2 linked regions of the Homo sapiens genome follow. The protein of the gene in region 2 interacts with the protein of the main gene of each other region in a biochemical or structural test. Each region holds a gene or a part of one and is shown on either strand. Other genes may lie near its edges. The genes, in order: SYTL4 and RAB27B.

What was found.
Region 1: the proteins of RAB27B (region 2) and SYTL4 form a complex in vitro, tested with the Homo sapiens proteins (one study listed by BioGRID).

What each region holds. Positions count from the first base shown.
Region 1 is NC_000023.11:100,730,326-100,733,925, forward strand, and holds the start of SYTL4 (synaptotagmin-like protein 4), read right to left. Parts: upstream 1,797-3,600; 5' UTR 1,679-1,796; intron 1,210-1,678; exon of another isoform or gene 1,181-1,209; 5' UTR 1,093-1,180; intron 1-1,092. UniProt on the Homo sapiens protein: Modulates exocytosis of dense-core granules and secretion of hormones in the pancreas and the pituitary. Interacts with vesicles containing negatively charged phospholipids in a Ca(2+)-independent manner.
Region 2 is NC_000018.10:54,826,330-54,830,454, reverse strand, and holds the start of RAB27B (ras-related protein Rab-27B), read right to left. Parts: upstream 1,979-4,125; 5' UTR 1,755-1,978; intron 1-1,754. UniProt on the Homo sapiens protein: Small GTPase which cycles between active GTP-bound and inactive GDP-bound states. In its active state, binds to a variety of effector proteins to regulate homeostasis of late endocytic pathway, including endosomal positioning, maturation and secretion.

The sequences.
Region 1 (3,600 bases), on a different chromosome or scaffold from region 2:
AAACATATACTTGGGCTTGGAAGACAATTTTTTAATCACTTAGTCCTCATCCATGAGCTATTCAGTGTTCCCAACATCTAAGACAACAGAGGTGGTGTGACAGGATAGGAACACAAGCTCTGCCTCCGAGATTTTGAGGGCAAGGCACTTAACTTCTCAGTCTCTTTTTCATCATAATATGGTTATAACTGTAGCACCTACTGTATAGAGTTATTGTGAGGATTGCATTTTTATGTAAAGAACTTATCACAGTGTCCAGCTCAATGGAGCCTAACAACCAGAGCCTAACAAGCTCAGAGAGCCAGAATGCTACATATACTCACAGATCAATTACCCCAGAACAGGCCTCCAGCTCCATTTCACTGCTCTGACCAAGAGTGAGACACCTGAAATTGTGTTACCAGAAATGTTCATCCTCTGCCCAAAAAGGGCCTCACAAGCCAAGTTGGTGGTGCTTTTCTACTAGGGTGCTAAAAACCAAACAACCAAAAACGCAGAAAACTTCATCAAGGCCACGTCTCTGCATTAAACATTGTTCCCACAGCGACAAAAGTCTTAAGTCATTAATACCTCAATATTAATAGATTTATGAGAGGTGGGGGTGGGGAGCTTAAAGAGCAGAAAATAAGCCAGTTAAATATAGGAGGTCCAGGATGTACAGAAGACTCATTTTTGCCACAAATATACAAGGTCTAGGGTCAACCCTGCCAAGCACAGTACTCTGGAATTTTACGTCCTCTAATCCTGAAGAAGCAGGGTACTGGGGGAAGAAAAGCTTGATTAGAAAGTCACCACTTTTCAAGCCACCAGAATTCTAACCAAATGATTTCACCACCCCAAATCCCACCTCATTCAATGTTAAGGGTTGGAGGAACACCTTTTTCTGCCCCATTACAAACCAACACAGGAGACAGAAGCATTCTGTGCCCCTTCTGAGATCTCGGGGACCCTCCTCCAGTACCAGATCTCTCACAGCCTGCTTGAAGAGCGGCAATATAAAGCAGCTCCACAGCACACAGCCAGGTCCCCAGCCCCAAGCGCAGAGGGAGCCCACTGAGGCAGGACTCCAGCCAACCAGCCTCCAGCCTTTACCTGTGGCTGACTGGCCAACGCCAGAGAAGCCGCGATGTCGTAGGTCCGAAGAGAGTGCGGGTTAGCGACCCCGCTCGACGGCCGAGCGCTGTGAGAGGAACCCACGAAAAGGTGACTGGACGCCTTGGAGGGCGCAGTTCCCGCTAGGAGCTCGGCCCCGCCCCCGCCCCCAGGGCCAGCTCTCGGGAGGGGCACCAGCTCGGGCTGGCGGGAAAAAGCCCGGGCACTCCCCGCGAGGGGAGCCGAAGAGGAGAGGGGAGGCGGCTCCCAGAGGGGCACAGACCGCATTAGTGCTGGGTGGGTCAGGGAAGGGGCCAGAAGAAGCCCTGGAGAAAGAAAAGTGGCCGGGAGGGACCGCCCAAGCAGACGGGAGTCCAAGCCTGGGGATGCGGTCGGGAGAGGCGGACGGGGAGAGGGGAGACGCGGTCAGCTAGGGAGAAGGAAAAATTGGGGGACCAGAGAGCGGGTAGGGAAGACGCACGACCCCGAGATGGGGGTGGGGGCGCTTCAGCAGCGAAAAGGAGCTGGGGGTCCAGAAGGAGCACCGGACCGAGGGCGAGGGGCCGGCCGCTGGCTGTTGACCTACCTGTCACTTGCAACAGGTGCCTCCAGAGATCGAGAAGTCCCAGTGCCGGTTTCAAGGGAGGGTCTCCGGCTCCGGGAAGATCGCAACCCAGCTCCGGCAGCCGGCCCTTCTCACCCTCCCGGGAGGCGGAAAAAGCTGCAACTTTCCCTGGAGCGGGGAGGAGCTGGACTCTTAAAGGGGCCGCACAGCGCCCCGGGCTCCTTAGCAGGGGGCCACTCAGCCCAAAAGGGAGCTCTGGGACCCAAAGCCTTGAGACACAAGAGGAATGTCCTTCCAGGTTAGGAATGGGAGCCTGGGGACTGAGGATAGGGGTCTAACACTAGACGTGCCTCCTCACCCACTTACTTCCATCTGTTGGTCACTCTCTTAGACGGTGAAATCACCTGTCTCTTTCGTTCAGCTGAGTCAAAAGTTGTCAAATTGTCTCACACTTCTAAGAAGATAAAAGAGTATGAACTATCTAATTTGAGTAAATAAAATATAATACCATTCTGATCCTTTGACTTGTGGCCTTTTATGGCAAATAAATGTCTGTCTAAAATAGAAACGTTTTGGGCAAAAGCGTAGACTAAATTCATACATACACACTCAAGGACACAACTGGTTAAAATATCCAACTCACTAGTAATCAAAGAAAAGCAAATTAGAACAATAATGAGATTCTTTGGCAAAGATATTTTTTATTTTTTAATAACACTTAATGATGACAAAGTAGCCACCAAACAAGCTGTCTTAATTGCTGATAGCAGCATATGTTGGTTAAAAACCCTTTTAGAAAGCACGTGAGCAATATGTATCAATAGACTTGAAAATGTTTATACCTACCCAGTAATTGCAGATTCCTCTCCCTGCCTCTCCCATCCCTCTCCCCCTCATTTCACATCAGCAATTAAACATGCTCAAGTATCTACCATCTTAAAAAAAGAACCTCCCTACACAGGAGGTCCCTCTTCAGGTCCTCTTTATGGGCAAATGTATTGAAAATGTACTTCACAGGTGAAATTGCAATTTTTATTCCCTTACTTCTCATTCATTTCTTAGCTCTCAGCAGTCTGGCTTCCTTCCCCCACTGAAACTTCTCAATGAGATACACAAACAATGACCCTCAGTGTCAATAAATCCATAAATAAGTAAGGTATTTTTGGTCCTTATTTTGCTTGACTTCTCCCCTACATTTAACACCGTTAACCATTTCCTCGTCCTTGAAACTTTCTATGGCATCTATGACATTTTACTCTTTTGCTTTTCCTCCTACTCCTTTGCCCTCTCCTCAGTGACCTTTGTAGGCCACTCTTCTGCTATCTGACCTCTGAAAGTCAGACATTCTCAGGGCTAGGATACATATACTCCCTCCCCCAAATAATCTTTTTCACTCACTTGGCTTTAATTACCATATATATGGTCACAACTCTAATTCTATAACTCTACCCAGACTGCTTTATTGAGTTCTGTGTTCTTGACATCTCCACTTGAATGTCCTGCAGACACCTCAAATTCAACACATCCAAAGTTAAACCTACCATCTTTTCTCTTAAATTTGTTCCTCCTCCAGTATTTCTTATATCAGTAAATGACAACATGCCACTCAAGGCAATGGATTCACCATTCTAGATGCCATTAAGAACATTCATGATTCAACGGAGAAGGGCAAAATATCAACATTAACAGGAGTTTGGAAGAAGTTGATTCCAACCCTCATGGATGACTTTGAAGGGTTCAAGACTTCAGTGGAGGAAGTCACTACACATGTGGTAGAAATAGCAAGAGAACTAGAATTAGAAGTTGAACCCAGAGGCCAGGCACAGTGGCTCACGCCTGTAATCCTAGCACTTTGGGAGGCCGAGGCGGGCAGATCACGAGGTCAGAAGATCGAAACCATCCTGGCTAACACGGTGAAACCCCGTCTCTACTAAAAATACAAA
Region 2 (4,125 bases):
TCAACTGAAGAAACTGGATTGTGAGATGAGTTTTATATGAGTAATTGTTCTATATTTCATGCCGTACTGATCTGAGAGCCCAAAAACCTAACCAAAAATTTGCAGGAGTGAGGGTGGGAAAAGAGCAGGTTTCTATTCTGAACTACCTGGACATTTGGATAACTTCCATTTTTCCAGAAAAACAGTGAAATAAATGAACAGCAATTCTGAAACCAACATACAGTTGTAGTGTAAACTGGCATACCAACTGATCTTCTACCAAGAAGATCAATTATATTAGGGTTACCTTCCCTATTGGGTCAAACATGCCTGTTCCAGAAATGACCTATGAGAAAGGGGAACTGTGGTTTGCTTACATTCAACAGATTCCCTTTATCCCTTCTTGGCAACTATGAGAACAGGCTCATCCAGTTTTATCTGCTATGTTTTGTTTTCCTTTCGAAAGCAATGACAGTAACACTGTATGAGAGGCCATAGTCAATTCTGAAACAGAAAAGCTCCATTAATATTAAACTATCTGTCAAGATTACCCCTTTTTGGTCATTGGTAGGAATCACCTCTTGCCTTCAAGGATGGCTGACCCCATCTGGGTAGAGGATTATGCTAGGAAACTATGAAAAATAACTATTTGAGGGGCAATGGCACATGACAGGTATGTCTCTCTCTTCATCACTGCAATATGGACTTTACAGCAGCTTGAAAATTCATTAAACTTAAATATCTGAGTTTATATTAATGCTTAAGTCTATCCTTTCCCTCAACTTTTCAAAATTTATAACCATAAAACCCTGTATATTCTATATATGAATGAATATGTGTGAATATAACTAAATATTGAGAACTGTAGACATTTTTCTTATAAACAGAACAAAATCAAAATTCAGAGCTGTATTATATTAAACAATAATTTTGTTGTTAATAACCTTGAAATTTATGTTATTACTTTGGGCTTAATTTAATGATGTGCAGTTTAAAACAACTGGAATTACATACCCTTAGCTTTACATCTTGACATAAAAAACTCACAAAACATGATACAGGTGTGAAGGCTCTAACCAAACACAGCTTTTTCCTAGGAATGCAGTCTCTGCTTACAGTTCACCTACTTCAGTAGTTTTCAGAGGCTTAATTAATGTTGCATTGGGTGGGAAAGTCTTGAAAGCTAATTTATTGTGATCAGTTGGGTGAACACACATGCACACATATACCCTAGTTGGTGCAACACTTAGATCAGAATTCGAAAGTAACAGAGCAAAAAATTGGAAAACAGAAAGTACTCTTAAGGTCTCTGTGGCTATTTCATCTAAGGAAGTGCATATAAATGTCTTATTGCTCTCCTGGCTTGCCTCACTAAGTCGCTCCTCCTGGAATGAAACTCTGAGCACATCATCATCCATGCTTTTTCTTATTCATTATTTTGATTGTTTTTTGAGATGCAAATGAAAGGAAATTGGCATTGCTGTGCCTAGGCTTTTTGTTTTTCTTTTTGCTTTTTTTGGTGGTAACCAGCTGTTTGATAAGCAAACACTCAAGGAGAGCCAGGTCGAGTTGGCCCATGCCATCCGTGCAGCACACAGCACTACTGTCTTCTTTGCAAGGATTTCTGCTGGAAACCGCGATCGAAGGTGCACACGCACTCACACATGCACACACACACACACAGAGGCCTCACTTCCCACGGCGCAGGCCGGCGCTGCAGCACCCGGGTGGGTGGGAACGCGTTCCAGCAGCAGCAGCCCGCCTTCCCAACTCACCAGCCTGCGAAGTTTCCTTGCCGGGAGAGCAGGTGTCAGATTTCAGAGAGGTTTCCTTCCCCTTCCCAAGCCCTGGAACTCCCGGGCTCCACCGTCAGCAAGGAGACAGGATCTGCTCCACAGGGCGATGAGCACGGGGACAGCTACTTATCTCCTCCAACCTGTGGCTCCGGATGGGTCCAAGGCCGGGCGGTCCGCAGCCCCTGCCCGTCAGGACTGCGAGTGGCAGGGCTGGTGGCACCACCCTCGGAGTCCGCCGCGGCGGCGGGGCTGGGTAAGGTTTGTGTGAGAAGAAGGCGTGTCTGCAAGTCCCAACGCGGATGTGCGGAGCTCACCTCAGGCAAGTCTTGCTGGTGACTCAACTGCTGCAGTGAGAAACACACTCCTCTCGGGGATGAAGTCTCCACACTGTGGGGCTTCTAGCCTTACCAGCGAGCTCATTTTTATTCATTTTTGTTCTGTGTTTTCTTTGATGTCTCTCATTCAAAGAGCCCAGGGCGCTGTGAGAACTGGGGCCCTGACATTGCGTTCTCTCCTCCGAGGGGGTGTCTCATTAACTATGAGGAGTGAAGGCGAGGGATTGCGAGTGGGGAGCAGAGGATGGCCTCGGGAAATAAAAGAGGGCGTTGGAAAGAAATTAATATTTTAAAAGTTAGGATGTGTTCGTATGAATGCATTAATCAGTATGCAACATCCAAATTCACTTCCCAAAGCCCTAATTCACTTCCTAAAGTCACTTCAGAGATCAATAGGTTACCACTAAGTAAGATAATGAGCACACGGAGGCATTGAACCAGTATTTGTTAAGCACCTACTATGTGCTATGCCGTGTTCTAAACACATTAGATTCGTCCACAAAGCAAAGATCCTGGCTGCCCATCTTGGGATTCCATTTTAGACACATTCAGACATCCCTAATTTACAGACTGGTAGTAAAGGTAAGAATACAAGGTTAGGTACATTATAATAACAACCGATTTACTCCTCTGTGAACAAAATTTAAAAGTTCCAAACCTGTGTCTTGCATTCATGTTAGTAAACAACGAGATGCCAATGACTGCTTGAATTTTAATTACTTAACTTGTTTCTTATTCGATGCCCTAGAGACAATCTGGGAGGCACTGCTGTTATCAGCTCCCAGAGAATTTCTTGTAGAAGGGAGCAAAGGAATAGCCCAAACCAAAACACAAAACAAACAATAGCAAACTAGTGGAAAAATGGAATATTAGAGAAAACATTTTGGTCTCATAGAAATCTGTCTATTCTATTATGAAACTATTAAAGAAGTTCTATTTTATGTCCTTCAATGTTCTTGAAAGTTGAAAAGAAGAGTAATAATAATGTCTTCATAGTGTTATTGTGAAGAATTGACTTCATATCAGTAATGTGTGTAGAACGTGCCTGGCACAGTAAGTTCTATGAATGTGTTGGCTATACTTATAATTTTGGTAACAATCTATTCCATTCTCCCCAAGTAAGATCCAGTTCCTAAAAATTATTTTGGATCTACTGCATAAAAGTCTTTGAGGCTCAGCCTGTAGATTTTCAAAGTATGTATGCTTGGAATCTATATTTATGATAAATCTACTTTGCATTTAACAGCAATATCTAAGTATATAAGAAGTGTGTGTCCATGGGCCCAGACAGAAATAAAAGAAAGAACATAAGAGCCTTGAATCTTTTCCACTGTTAACACATTGACTTAAAATCACCCTCTGTGCTATACAATGATAACCCATATTCTTTATCTAGTTCATGTGTTCACTACTGACATTAGTCCTAATAGCTATTATTTCCTGTATGCAATAGAGTTTCATCTCATTTGGCTTTCACAACATTACTGTGAAATAGGCAAGGCGTCTATTATATTTATTGTCTCCATTTTCAGAATGAGGTAACTGAGGTTGAGAAAGTCGCAGTAAATCTGTCCAAAGTGATGAAGTTCAAAAGGTGGAAGACAGGTCTATTGATCCTGAATGCCGAGCTCACAGTGGTCACTGTGTTGTACTACCTCACTGCAACTTCTAGAAAAGGTTCCTGCCATAAGAAAATCTGACACACACATTTATTGATGACTCTCCTTGCCACCTTTCCCTAGATAAGTGTGTCACCTGCTTTATAGGGCCAACTCTTGCAGGGATAGCTCTCCTGGAGTGACTTGCCACATATGGTCCTGTCTCCGAGGTTCCAAGGCTCAGATTCAGTAGTGTTACATAGTGACACTACCAGAGAGTGGTGGAACATTTCCTTCCCTGGGAAGAGGGGTTCCAAGGAAGAGAAAGAGTAGGAAGACATAAGAGAAATGTTGCTTGGCCACTCCATGAAGGCCACTTTGACCAGAGGTAGAGCAGAATAAAAAACAGTGGAAAAC